Linked DNA regions of Homo sapiens. The protein of the gene in region 1 purifies or fractionates together with the protein of each later gene. This does not show direct contact. Each region holds a gene or a part of one and is shown in the gene's direction. Other genes may lie near its edges.

Evidence for each region.
Region 2: the proteins of DHRS9 (region 1) and ATP2B2 purify together in Homo sapiens (affinity purification with mass spectrometry; 2 studies listed by BioGRID and IntAct, with this or other methods). This does not show direct contact.
Region 3: the proteins of DHRS9 (region 1) and SLC2A8 purify together in Homo sapiens (affinity purification with mass spectrometry; 3 studies listed by BioGRID and IntAct, with this or other methods). This does not show direct contact.
Region 4: the proteins of DHRS9 (region 1) and SLAMF1 purify together in Homo sapiens (affinity purification with mass spectrometry; one large-scale study listed by BioGRID and IntAct). This does not show direct contact.

The regions. Positions count from the first base shown.
Region 1 is NC_000002.12:169,093,563-169,096,667, forward strand, and holds the end of DHRS9 (dehydrogenase/reductase SDR family member 9), read left to right. Parts: intron 1-1,981; coding exon 1,982-2,205; 3' UTR 2,206-2,605; downstream 2,606-3,105. UniProt on the Homo sapiens protein: 3-alpha-hydroxysteroid dehydrogenase that converts 3-alpha-tetrahydroprogesterone (allopregnanolone) to dihydroxyprogesterone and 3-alpha-androstanediol to dihydroxyprogesterone. Also plays a role in the biosynthesis of retinoic acid from retinaldehyde.
Region 2 is NC_000003.12:10,499,087-10,502,586, reverse strand, and holds part of ATP2B2 (plasma membrane calcium-transporting ATPase 2), read left to right. Parts: intron 1-3,500. UniProt on the Homo sapiens protein: ATP-driven Ca(2+) ion pump involved in the maintenance of basal intracellular Ca(2+) levels in specialized cells of cerebellar circuit and vestibular and cochlear systems.
Region 3 is NC_000009.12:127,396,025-127,399,968, forward strand, and holds the start of SLC2A8 (solute carrier family 2, facilitated glucose transporter member 8), read left to right. Parts: upstream 1-1,144; 5' UTR 1,145-1,206; coding exon 1,207-1,262; intron 1,263-1,351; coding exon 1,352-1,514; coding exon of another isoform or gene 1,515-1,880; coding exon 1,881-2,087; intron 2,088-2,147; exon of another isoform or gene 2,148-2,289; coding exon of another isoform or gene 2,290-2,310; intron 2,311-3,882; coding exon 3,883-3,944.
Region 4 is NC_000001.11:160,623,045-160,626,544, reverse strand, and holds part of SLAMF1 (signaling lymphocytic activation molecule isoform b precursor), read left to right. Parts: intron 1-2,359; coding exon 2,360-2,449; intron 2,450-2,959; coding exon of another isoform or gene 2,960-3,042; intron 3,043-3,500.

The DNA.
Region 1 (3,105 bases):
GAGCTTTCTCTGTTTGATATTGATACCGATACTTTTTAAATGCCTTTGAATATATCACTGACTTCCATCTCCAATTATTTTTGGCTTGGTTCCTGGTTCATGTGTTCTGTCTCAGAAATACCAAAAGGCATTGAGCTCAGTTTTACACTGGTTGTTCTCACTAGAGTTTTCAAGTCAGGACTTGGAGATCAGCCAAAGTCACGGTCCCAAAGTAGACCACAAATTGAAGGTCATCTTTTCTTAATTTCCCAAGCTGGGATAGTAGGAGTTTAAAATAGCCACTAAGACTTATTAGGTTCTTTGAACAACTTGTGGCCAGTGGGACTTGAAGTTGAAAGAAAGATCTAACATCATAGACTTTCCCTTGAGAAGACACAGCTCAGGTATGGTTTAAAAGTATGTGAGAATCATATGATAGCTCTACTTTGAATTTGGGGGGGAAATCTCTATGCCATTTTCCATAATGACTGTACTAATTTACATTCTCACAAACAGTATACAAGAGGTTTTCTCCATGCCCTTGTCAATACTTGTTATCTTTTGTCTTTTGATAGTAGCCATTCTAACAAATGTGAGGTGATATCTCATTTTGGTTTTAATTTGCATTTCCCTGATGATTAGTGGTGACAAACATTTTTTTCATATACCTGTTGGCCATTTGTATCTTCTTTTGAGAAAAGTCTGTTCAGATTCTCTTCCCATTTTTAATCAGGTTATTTCTTTTCTTGCTGTTGAGTTTCTTATACATTTTGGATATTAACTGTGCCTAAGATATAAAGTTTGCAAATATTTTTTCCCATTCTGTATGTTTTCTCTTCACTCTTTCAACTGTTTCCTTTGCTGTGCAGAAGCTTTTTAGTTGGATACAGTCCCACTTATCTAGTTTTGCTGTTGTTTAGCTTTGTGTTTTTGGGGTCATATCCAAAGAAATCATTGCCCAGACCAATGTCAAGAAGTATTTCCTTTATGTTTTCTTCTAGTAGTTTTTTTTTTTTTTTAATAGAGATGAGGTCACACTATGGTGCCCAGGATGGTCTTGAACTCCCTGGGATCAAGTGATCTTCCCACCTCAGCCTCCCAAAGTGCTGTAATTACAGGTGTGAGCCACCATGCCAGGCCTCTTTTGGCAGTTTTATAATTTCAGGTCTATGTTTAAGTCTTCAATCCATTTTAAGTTGATTTTTTTATATGGTGTAAGATTCAGTTTCATTCTTCTTCATGTGGATATACTGTTTTCCCAATACCATGTATTGAAAAGACTGGGGTTGTAATCCACCACTAATCCCTTGTAAAATCCCTGCCTCTCTAAAGGTATCTTCGCTCATTATTCAAACATCTCATTTGCATGAGAACTGGGATCCTTTTAGCTTCCTGAGTCAGTACATTTGGGGATGATTCTCTCTTTATTTACAGATTATAGAAGCCTATACAAGTATACAAGTGCACAATTACATCCACACATGCATGCACATACATGCACAAGCACATGTGCAACCCACATTTTCTCTAGACACATAATCCCCTAAAACAAATTAGAAATCAAACATACAACTTTCTAGGCTTAGGGGCCTCATGGGCTTTATGAAGTATCGTTTCCTCATTGCTCTAAAGCACTGAGGGATCAAAGTTTGATCCCTGGACCAGCAGCATCAGCATCATCTGGAAATTTGTTAGAAATGCTCATTCTTGGGCCCCACCTCATACCTCAGTCAGAAACTCTGGAGGTGGAACCGAGAAACCTGGGTTTTAATGAGCTCTCTAGAAGAATCTGCTGCCAACCCAATCTTGAGAGCTGCTGGTCTAAAGAAAGCATTGCAATATCATTTTCTGAGGAATAGATAGTAAATCCTCAAAATGAGCCTCAATTATAATGGACAATTCAGAATAAATCCCCTTGTATCCATCCTCCCCTTTGCACCCTAGACTTCCACTCTGCTTTCCCCTTCTACCAAAGAGTAAATGTACTTTTGTCTCTTTTTAGGTCTAGACAAACTGAAAGGCAATAAATCCTATGTGAACATGGACCTCTCTCCGGTGGTAGAGTGCATGGACCACGCTCTAACAAGTCTCTTCCCTAAGACTCATTATGCCGCTGGAAAAGATGCCAAAATTTTCTGGATACCTCTGTCTCACATGCCAGCAGCTTTGCAAGACTTTTTATTGTTGAAACAGAAAGCAGAGCTGGCTAATCCCAAGGCAGTGTGACTCAGCTAACCACAAATGTCTCCTCCAGGCTATGAAATTGGCCGATTTCAAGAACACATCTCCTTTTCAACCCCATTCCTTATCTGCTCCAACCTGGACTCATTTAGATCGTGCTTATTTGGATTGCAAAAGGGAGTCCCACCATCGCTGGTGGTATCCCAGGGTCCCTGCTCAAGTTTTCTTTGAAAAGGAGGGCTGGAATGGTACATCACATAGGCAAGTCCTGCCCTGTATTTAGGCTTTGCCTGCTTGGTGTGATGTAAGGGAAATTGAAAGACTTGCCCATTCAAAATGATCTTTACCGTGGCCTGCCCCATGCTTATGGTCCCCAGCATTTACAGTAACTTGTGAATGTTAAGTATCATCTCTTATCTAAATATTAAAAGATAAGTCAAACATTTTCATGAGTGGATAGACATGTTCTGTTACCTTGCTGAGGATGACTCTGAAGGACCAAAGCTCAGTTCTGATAAGCTTTGAAAAGGACAGGAAAAGGGAGGGTGATCAAGCATTGTGTGACACGGGTATAAGCTAAAGGCAGCAGTAAAACACTAGATAGAACTGCAAACAGAAGGAAAGAAAAAGATAGGAAAAGGAATAAGAGGACTGCAACAAAAGAATATATACCTAAATATATATATATGAAGAGAGACTCCCCAACACTCAGACAAGCCTTCCTAGAGGGAGCTATGGAGGTGAACATCCTATTCAAGCCCCTAAGAACATTGATGCACACAGTTTTCTGGTGGAAAGATGTAATGACATAGTAACTAATCATTCCAAAAGAAGAATAATGTTACATTTGGTTGGTTTATTCTGATGATTGTAAAAGTAACAAGACCCAGACCATGTGGCACAACTTACACCTGAGATGGCTGGAAATCTTGCATTTGAAGGGTC
Region 2 (3,500 bases), on another chromosome or scaffold:
AAAGGAAACTGTGGCCCAGCCAGGCACAGGGACTTGTCCAAGGTCACACCGTGTTCTGTAGAGACCTGGGCTTCTTGCAAGTGCTCTCAGGCCCCAGACAAGAAGCAGCAGAGGCCTGTGTTGGCCCCTGGTTTTCCCCAGGTGTTTGACTGTGGGTGGAAAGTATGAGAGCCCTGGGCCCAGCCCTGCTCCTGACCAGCTGTGTGATCTTGGCCAAGTCACTTCCTCTCTCTGCCCTCAATCTTCTCATCTGTGGCCAGGCAGGCCTATCTCTGCCCTGTTTTATGCCACAGCTGCCAGAGAGCCCTGGACACTGTAGAGGGCTGTGCACGAAGGTGTGATTGGCATCAGGATCAGGAGCCGGAGCAGGTGAGCACCTTGCTGCTGCAACTGGCCAACTCTGAGATCAGAAAGGGAAAAAAGGAAAGAAATCTCTAGTTTGCAGATCGGAGGTCAGAAAAGCTGCCTGTGGCTTATGCTATGTGCAGAGCCTGAAACACTGGCCCATCCGCCTGCTGTCCCACTGCCCTCCTCTGCCTTCCCCCTGCCCAGCCACAGGTATGGGTCAGGAAACCCATTAATGCATTAATTAACCTAAAGATCACCTGATGGGGGCAGATTTCTGGGCCCTACCTTGATGAATCAGGAGGTCCCAGGGGCTACATTTCCACAGGTACCCCTGGGTTTTCACCCATTTCACTCCGCACCCTGGGGAGCTGAGGTGCTTAAGAGTGGGCTTGGTGGAGCACATAGGCGCTCAGAGCTGGGGGTGGCCTAGACACCATGCTGTTCTGCCTGTACCTGTCACACGTGGGGAAACTGAGGTCTCCAGCCTAGTGGGTGACTGAATGAGACTGAAACTCATTTCCTCTCCCCACCAGTCCCCTACCAACCCCTAGCCCCTGGCTTCACCCTGCACAGCTAAATCAGGCCCTCCTGAGGACCGATGAACCCTCAAATCCAAAACAAGGCCATCTTCTCAGCAGACAGCTGGGAGCCATGCTCCAAGGGCACTCTCCAAGACCCCATCTCTACAAAAAATTTAAAAATTAGCAGGGTGTGGTGGCATACTCCTGTCGTCCCAGCTATGCAGGAGGCTGAGGTGGGAGGATCGCTTGAGTCCGGGAGGTCAAGGCTGCAGTGAGCCGTGATTGTGCCACTGCACTCCAGCCTGGATGACAGAGCGAGACCCTGTCTCAAAAAAAAAAAAAAACCGTTTAAAAAATGGGTTATGCTATGGAAAACTCCTGGGACCTCCTGCTGGGCAGTGTGGCTTCGGCTTCACCCCGGTCTTCACTTGACAGTCTGGATGGAGGCGGCGGGAGGCAGGGGGAAGCGGGAGTGACGGTAAAAGCCTTAGAAGTGTCATTCACAGTCTAGGAAATCTCTGCAGGGTCAGAGAGTTCCAGATATGTGGCCAGAGACCACGGCTGGCAGGACCAGGAGGGCAAGTGACCAGGCCCGAGCAGGGGCCACAGCTCAGGTTCCTAAAGAAACAGAGGTCCCTGGGTATGGGGGAGAGTGTGTTGGTCTGAGGGTCAGGAGAGCTGGGTCCCAGGCCGGCTCATCACTGGCGAGTGACCTTGGAAAAGCTGTGTAAGCCCTCTGGTCCCAAGCTCTCCCCTTGTGAGAGGGGTCAGTGATCCTGCCCCCCAGTGTCCTTGGTGAGGGCAGCTTCTCCTGCCCACTGCCCCTTGGGGTGAAGGGTCAGAAACACTGCAAGTCTCAGGAAGTAGCAAGGAGAGCAACTGCAGGGACAGCCCGTTGTGTTTGTTTTCTGTGGCTGCCATAACAAATGACCACAGGCTAGGTGGCTTCAAACAACAGACGTGTATTGTCTCCCACTTCTGGAAGCCAGAAGTCTAGAGTCAGGAGCCAGCAGGGTTGGCTTTTCCTGGAGAGGCTGAGGAAGAGCCTGTCCCTTGTCTCCCTAGCTACGGGCAGTGGCCAGCAACCCTTGCTCTTCCTCACCTTGTGGCTGCGTCACACCCATCTCTGCTTTCATCTTCACCTCACTCCTTCCTGTGTGTCTCTCGGTGTCCTCTCCTCTGCTTCTAAAGACATTGGTCATTGGATTTAGGGCCCAACCTAGACCCAAGATGATTTCATCTCAAAATCCTTAGCTAATTCCATCTGCAAAGATCCTATTTCCAAACAAGGTCACATTCTGAGGTTCCAGGTGGGCATGAACTTTGGATAGGACACCGTTCAACCCACTGCAGTCACTAAGATTTATGAGGTGTTTATTGCTCATAAGACCTGCACACAGTCTTATCTCTTCTTCACCATCACCCATTTTCCGGATTACAGAAACCAGGGCCCAGAGACATTAAGAATGTGCCCAAGTCAGGCCAGGCGCAGTGGCTCATACCTGTAATCCAAGCACTTTGGGACGCCAAGACAGGTGGATCACCTGAGGTCAGGAGTTCGAGACCAGCCTGGCCAACATGGCAAAACCCCGTTTCTACTAAAAATACAAAAAAAGTTAGCCGGGCCTGGTGGTGCATGCCTGTAATCCAGCTACTCAGGAGGCTGAGACAGGAGAATCATTTGATCCTGGGAGGTGGAGGTTGCAGTGAGCCAAGATGGAACCATTGCACTCTAGCCTGGGTGACAGAGTGAGACTCTATCTCAAAAAAAAAAAAAAAAAAAAAAGAATGTGCCCAAGTCACACAGCAAGTGAGGGGCAGAGCTGGGATTTGAACCCAGGTCCCTGGTGCTCCTTCACCTTTCCACCTTTTTGTAGCTGGCTGGGGGATGCCCAGAGACCCCTTAGGGCCCACAGCTAGGAATCCATGGGGCAGGAATTCCAGCCAGCCCTATGAAGACCCCAGGTCTGCAGGGGCTCCTGGGCACCAGAGAGAGGCTGGAGACAGGCAGGGGAGCTTCAAGGTGTGAAGGGGCCCAGCCGTGGTCCCAGGAGACCAACATGTGGCAGAGGATTGAGAGCCACAGTTCCTTGTCTCTGCCACTGACTCTGTGAACGTCATTGTGCTCTTCCGGAGAATAGGGGCAGCAGCACTGACTTTATGGGGTAATTGCCAAGTACCGAAATGTTCATCATAATAGTACTAATCGCTAAAATGTGTCCGCAAGCACTTTACAAATGCTTTTTGTTTTCCCATGTAATGCGTGGGAGGGGAATTGCTTATTCAGTCATGTGCGTTCGGTTGTGTGTGGTTGAACCAGTGACTTCGCCTCAGTTTGCTCCTCCGTAAACCAAGGGTTAGCTGAGCACCCATCTTCCCGGTTGTCACGTGAGGCAAACAGGATCCAAGTACAGGGCTTGGCCCGGGTGTGGTCCAGGTAGAGGCTCAGCGGATGTTTTCTTGCCTGTAAGATGGGATAGTGGTAGTATTATGATGATGCTATTATTTGTTGTATGAGGATTTGGTGAAGTAATGCAAAGGAAGCACTTGGCTCAGGGCCTCGCCAGAAATTGATGGAAAGTGGCCTCCTTTGTGGCATCAGAAAGATTTGAGTATAAATCCTAATGCCAG
Region 3 (3,944 bases), on another chromosome or scaffold:
GTGCTTCACATGTCTTATATACATTACCTTGCTTCACAACTCTCCTGGAAGATAATGGTCATCCCCACTTAGAGATGAGGAAACACAAGGCCCAGAGAGGGATTACAAGCCAAGCCTCTTACTCCCATGCCCTGGCTCTTTCCAGAATTACACCAGCATTCCACCACAGCTGCCTGCACCCAGAGTGTTGGGTATGAATCGGGTACAACTGGTGAGATCCAACAGTGCCTCATCATTCGACTTGGGTGCACACGGGAGAAGGTGGCATTAAAATCCACAGGGAACTCAAAATATGGAGGCAGGTAGATGAAGATTCAAGAGTCAGGACTCCCTGTGAAGTGAGTGACACTTAAGAGGGGGAGTGGAGCCCAGATCTGTCACACATACGGCGTGGGGGACCCCACCTACCACTGGTCCTCAGCACCTGGAGACCCGAGCCTTCAGCAATCTGGGAAGCATGAAAGTGGGTTTCGGTGCACAGGGCCACGCCTCCGCCGCCAGCAGCCCAGCGGGAGCGTCTGACCAGTCTCGCCCTCCGAGAGGAGAGAGAGGCGGCCCAGGACGGTCTGCTTAGAGGCTCTCTCCCCTGCAGAGCTGGGCCCAGGCATAGGTCAGACGCCTCCAATACAGTCCCCAGGGCAGCGATTAAAGCGGAGCAGGAACTGCAGACCCGACCGGGCAGGACAGGTGCAGCTTCTCGGAGTTGGGGGCGGGAAGTCTCGGGCTGAGGCCCACGTGCTTCGCCTTCGCCCCGCCTCTACCCTCATTGGTTGAAGCCAGATTGAGAGGAGGTGCCAGAAAAAAAACTCCTCCCTCCAACCTCATTGGCCAGCTCAGTTCTGAGGCAGCTCTCTGGCCCCGTCTATGGGCTCGCACTACACTCCAATTGGGTGGTTGTTCTCCCAGACGGAAACTCCGCCCCACCTGTACCTTGGACCGCTCCGCCCTAGGGGCGGTTCCAGCGCGCTTCGCTAATCGGTTCTATGCTCCCATTGGTCTGCTTTAATGTGAAGGGCGGGTCCTAGCTGATTCGCTAGCCCCGCCTTGCGTTCCTATTGGCTGCTCCTGCTCTGCGGTTCCGATCCCGCCCAGCACCGTCCCCCACCCCCCGCCGCCCATTGGCTGCGAGAGGCCGGTGCGGGCCGCACTCGCAGGGCCCGTGGCGGTTCAGGCGCCAGAGCTGGCCGATCGGCGTTGGCCGCCGACATGACGCCCGAGGACCCAGAGGAAACCCAGCCGCTTCTGGGGCCTCCTGGCGGCAGGTGAGCTCCGGGGAACCCGGGCCCGGATGCGGCCTCGCCCTCCCGCCCCTCCGCGTCCGCTCCGCTCACCCTCGGCCCTGTCCCCCCAGCGCGCCCCGCGGCCGCCGCGTCTTCCTCGCCGCCTTCGCCGCTGCCCTGGGCCCACTCAGCTTCGGCTTCGCGCTCGGCTACAGCTCCCCGGCCATCCCTAGCCTGCAGCGCGCCGCGCCCCCGGCCCCGCGCCTGGACGACGCCGCCGCCTCCTGGTTCGGGGTGAGGCCCCGGGCTCGCTCCTCCCGCCCTGGGACCCCACGCCCTCCTCTCGGGACGGGCATCGGGACCCTCCGCCCCCCACCCTTCCCCTCGGGACAGGCATCGGGCCCCGCCGCCACCACCTTTCCCCACGAGACAGGCATTGGGCCTCTCTGCCCCCCATCCCTTCCCTCGGGACGGGCATCGAGCCCCTCAGCCCCCACCCCTCCCCTCGGGACGAGCACCGGGCCCCTCAGCCCCCTACCCCTCCCCTCGGGACGGGCGCGGGGCCCCGGCTCTTTTACCTCTGAGCCCGCGGGGAGTGGGTGGAGGGGGAGGATGGGCTGCGGCTTCGGCGCCCCCTCCTCAGCAGCCGCCCGCCTCCAGGCTGTCGTGACCCTGGGTGCCGCGGCGGGGGGAGTGCTGGGCGGCTGGCTGGTGGACCGCGCCGGGCGCAAGCTGAGCCTCTTGCTGTGCTCCGTGCCCTTCGTGGCCGGCTTTGCCGTCATCACCGCGGCCCAGGACGTGTGGATGCTGCTGGGGGGCCGCCTCCTCACCGGCCTGGCCTGCGGTGTTGCCTCCCTAGTGGCCCCGGTGAGTGTCCCGTCTCTCGAGTGTCCTGTCTCGCGGCCTGAGACCGAGGGGGAGTGGGACAAACCGCTCCCCAGGCCTGGGGGCGCGGCTCCCCCTGGCGGGACCTTCTGGGTGCCAGGCTTGAAGTCCCTGCGTTATCTCGCGGTCCCTCCCGTCGACCCTGGGAAGGATCCTACTGTTCTCTCCATTTTACACTGAGGTCATGACATGCAGTCTCGGAAAGGTGAAGTCCTTTGCCCAGGCGAGGTCCACAGCTAGTCAGAGGGGAAGCAGTTGCAGGAACCCAGGGTTGTCCCACTTAGCCGTGCCCCTCTTTTGCTCTGCAAACCTGCGGATGATCCACAGGAGCCCACTCCCTACATTTTGGTTTTCATCCCTGGCTTCGGGTCAATGACTGCAATTAGCAGGAAGTTCCTGTCCTGATTTCTCTTGGGGCAAAGGCTGCTGGCCTCTGTGTTCCCCTTCCCTTCTCACAGGCCAGCCCCTCTGGCTTCCCCATCTTCCCCCTTTCCCCCTCCTGACCCAGGCTGCCCACTTGGGAGCCCCGAACATCTGGGTCAAATCCTGGTTCTGCCACTAACCTGAGCAGAGTGCCTCCCTGGGCCTCAGTTTCCTTCTCTGGAAAACAGGGATTATGGCATTAGCCCCTGAGGTAGTGGTCAGGATTCAGTGGGACTTTGGATAGACAGCCCCTGGCATGGCTTGTAGAGGACTGGATCCTGACAGCTTGGTGACCCATGAACTGCCCCCAGCCATGGGCTTGGACAATATCTCCCCCAAGTGAGGTTGAAAGCAGCCACTCAGGCCCCTCCCTGGGTGCTCATTTCACCAACGTTTGCTAACCGGCAGCAGCAGCTGGACCAGAAGAGGGTGGGGAAGAAGCTGGGCCTTTTATGTCTTTGGTTTTTTTAACTGGGCAGAAACACACCTGTGTTAGGGGCCTAAGCTATGGAATAACCTTAGATGCATGGGTGAGGGCCTGGTGGCCTGTGGGCCCAGGAGGGAGCTAGTGGCAGCCACTGGTAGTGACCGAGGCAGAGAGTTCGTGCTTCTAGTCCAAGGCCACCACTCAAAGCGTGGGCCCTGGGCTAGGATCCTGGGTGGGCGTCACGTGGAGCTGGTTAACAAGGTGGAATCTTTCGCCTGTCCAGACCTACTGCATCGGAATCTATGATTTATCCAGGGTGTCTGTGCACATTAAACGAAGGCTTGAGAAGCTCTGTGCCCACCGCCTCTCGTCATCATATGCAGCCCTCTCCGTTACCCTTAATCCCCTTTAAACACCTGCCACAGATCTTTCAGTGGTGGGGACCTGGGGATGGCTCTGCTCACCTAGGCAGGTTCCACTAAGGGGCTTCAGGGCCTGCCGTAACCCCCTGCAAGGACTTTCCTCAGCTCTGAATGGCTGAGACCTTTCCATTTTAAGAACTCTTGGAGCCTGAGTAAAGCCTCATCTTTTTTTTTTTTTTTTTAATTTTTATTTAAAAATTTCGGAGTTTCGCTCTTGTTGCCCAGGCTGGAGTGCAATGGTGGGATCTTGGCTCACCGCAACCTCCACCTCCAGGGTTCAAGTGATTCTCCTCCCTCAACCTCCTGAGTAGCTGGGATTACAGATGTGTGCCACTAGGCCCAGCTAATTTTGTATTTTTAGTAGAGATGGGGTTTCTCCCTGTTGGTCAGGCCAGTCTCAAACTCCCAACCTCTGGTGATCTGCCCGCCTCGGCCTCCCAGAGTGCTGGGATTGCAGGCATGAGCCACTGCGCCCAGCCATAAATCCTCATCTGATTGCTGGCAGGTCTACATCTCCGAAATCGCCTACCCAGCAGTCCGGGGGTTGCTCGGCTCCTGTGTGCAGCT
Region 4 (3,500 bases), on another chromosome or scaffold:
TTAAAAAGGTCTATGATTCATATTTGTATCCAAAGATGAGGAAAAAAATTAGAGTTTATGAAATATCTTTCAGGACCATGGCCAACTTGTCTCTCAGATCTAGATGGACTGGCAGAAGCTTGTCATAGGACAAAGGTAGCAGATTGCTTTCATCCTCTAGAGACCCTAGAAAAGATAGAGAGGGCCGGCGTTGTCATGTCCTGAAGCCTTGGTGCTGCACCCAGTCATCGTTAGTTTCTGTGAGTTGGTGGGCAGCAGAGCAACCGGCGTCGGGCGCGAGGGAGAGGAGGCTGACTCACCAGGCATTACTGGTGCAGTTTTGTCTTTTATTTTCCAGTTCAGAGGTACTACTTTGTCTGTTGGTTTTATTTTTTTAATCTCAAGTGAAATTGGAAAGAAATATTATCTTTTAAAATGATATAAATGGTGGGGGTGTTTCTTCTCAAATCAGTTGTTGTATTGGAAGTTCCCAAAGTATCTATGATAGAAGAAGAAAGAGGAACTAGTCAAAATAGTAAGTGCTACTATAATGGTTTGCTGGATCAGTTCCATAGGCTGACGAAACACAAAGTTCAGGCTACTGGCTTTGCTTCTTATCCTAGTATTAGAGTGATTTCTCCAGTGGTTCCTAGTGTCGATATCATAAACCTTGAATGAATCAATCTGTCTCAAACACACACATACACACATACACACACACACACACACACACACACACACTCCTGCACAGAGGGTTCTCAGTGACCATAAGTCACTCAGAGTGGAGCTGCTCCTTCCTCCAGCATCAGCAATGATTCAAAATGTCATGCTTTATACAAATTCAGAACTCTCTGCCTGCCTCCTAACTTTTTTTTTTAATCAGAGCATAAGACTGTTGAAGTTGGTATCTGGCAAAATTAAAACATTTAATTTAGGGGATAGAACCTATAACCAAGGTGTTTGCAAAGTCAGTTCAGTGAGATTCCTTGGGCTAACTTGATGTGTGAAAGGCCTAAGGAGAAAAAGAATCTTTTCAAATCCAGAAGGCAACTTCTTGCCAGCTATCAGGCTGGAGGCCCCTTTGGATCTTGTAGGCTGCATTTTATGAATTCATTGAGACTGTCTGTATCTTTGGTCAACTCTGTAAACATCTGATTGTGTCCACCATGATTCTTTCCTTTGGAACCCGACTATTTTTCTTTCAATTTCTGCCCCACAAATTCCTCACAGGTTCAACAACAAGCAGGCTTATTCCACAATCATCCTTATAAGTTTCCCTTACACATTAATGTTAACATCTGGTGTTACTCTATTTAGAACCTTAGTGCGAATATTCTACTTAGAACCCTAGGGCTTCAGCTCGGTCCCCACTGTTCATTACCCCGGTATAACTTTTTCCAAGCCCATAAGTCTCTCTAACTCTCCAAGAAGTCTGTCTTTAGTATTCAGCCACATTTCTACTACTAAACCAAGCTCTAGTTCTTGAGGTTCTCCAGGCTGTTTTCCTTCTCCATAAAATGAGAATAATGAGTGTACCTACCTTGTAAGATTATTGTGAGGATTAAATATGTTAGTACACATGATGCACTAAAAATATGTGGCCCATTGCAAGTGCTCAATAATTGTTCATTATAATCTTATTGAGCTACATGTCTTGTTTACTGGGGGTGATAATTCTCATTCACTGTTTGTCAAAGTGTTGCTCCTAGTTCAAAAGGATTTGATAAAGTGGGTAAAGGAGAGAAAACAATAAAAGTTTTCTCTCTGATTTTGAGCCTTGATGATTAGTTCTCGGGCTAATTTTAAACATGAAGATGATTTAGAGGAAAGACTAAATACTTTCCTTTCAGTTCAGGTCTGCTGGGTTCAACCCAGTTATTTGCATGAAAGGACAACAATAGCACTATTATGTTTATTTTTAAAAAAGATAAGTAGATCTTTCTTCCTCCCAGTGTCTCATGAGAATAGCGTGAATTCACAGGGACGGCACATGGAACCATTATATTCTCTTTACCCAAAATGGATACAGGACACATTAGCAATCTTAAGATGGAGAAACTGGGCAGAGAGATTGACTTAGGAGAGATGAAGATAATTTAATGTTAGACATGTGGTAGTTGAGTTAAAAATAAAGCATTTGGATAGAAAAATCTTCATGAAATTAAGAATGTGAAAGTATAGTGAGAGAAATTAGAATAAGAAAACAGATACAAAAATTTTCAGTGGTCTAAAGCTGACCTCTAAAACCATGAAAACAAACGTCTCCCTTGGGAGAGAATGCAGAAATAGAACATGAGGCTCCATTATCCCACTTTCATGTAAGATGTTTTTAAGCTCAGAATACTTTTGAGATTGCTCTTTGACTTCTTTTTTTTTCCAGAAACAAAACCATGGGCAGTGTATGCTGGGCTGTTAGGGGGTGTCATCATGATTCTCATCATGGTGGTAATACTACAGTTGAGAAGAAGAGGTAGGTGTCTGGCAATAAATAGATTCTTATCACACTCTCTGTGGTAAGCAGGGGACCTCTCTCCACAGGCTCGGACTTGCTCTCACAACTCTGGCTTTCTGCATGGGGCCACCTTTGCAAAAATAGTAGATAAACATATCCTGGGACCTTGCTTAATTCAGTCTAATTCAACATGTCTTGATCCCCTCTACTAGGCTGTGGAAAGAAATAGAAGAGCCACAGGTTTCTAATGTGAGAGACATTATTCAGATAATTTCAGTTTAGTGTGACTAGCACTGCCATCAGGGTAAACACAGGATGCTGAAGAAGTGAACAAGAGGTTTAAGAGTATTCACTGGGAACAGAATTCAGAAAATTATTGGATCTCATCCAAAAAGTCACCAGGGTTAGAATGAAACCAATAAGGCACAATTATTCCCCTGCAGTTGAAGTGCCTAGAGGTACCATCCCCTGTCCTCTCTTCCAAATTTCCCTATGATACAATATCTCAGGGCATTGTGCTCCCCTCAGCCACCTTGACTACTACCAACCAATACTGGAGTCAAAATGTCCTGACCCAAGACCAGGAGAGATGCCCCGGCTGCCTTCCCATGGTAAGGATAGAACTTGATCCTCATAACACTGAGCTGATGACTGATTTCATTCTCAAGTAGATCAGTGTCATCTACACACAACCTTCTTAGAAAAGCCCTTACCTCAGCACTCTGATGTTGGTTTTGCATATATAAAAAAATCTAGATCATAGCACAGCGACCTACTTGTGTCTCATTTCCTCCATCTAAGAGTTAGCCAGGTAGGAGGGATGGGTGATTCAGATAGAAATTAGGTTGACAGCCTATGGGGCTCGGGGTAGGGCAATCACATTTAGCTCATACTATAAGGAAATAGTGAGATGACCCAGGATGAGAAAACTGAACTTAACTTATCCACATTAACCTACCTAGTAAAATTGCTGGGATCCTACGCCATACTCTTTCCTCAACCACACTTGGCTTATCACATGGTTGTGCTCTAAGGGAATAGTGCTCCCCATCCCACAATTCCCCACTAC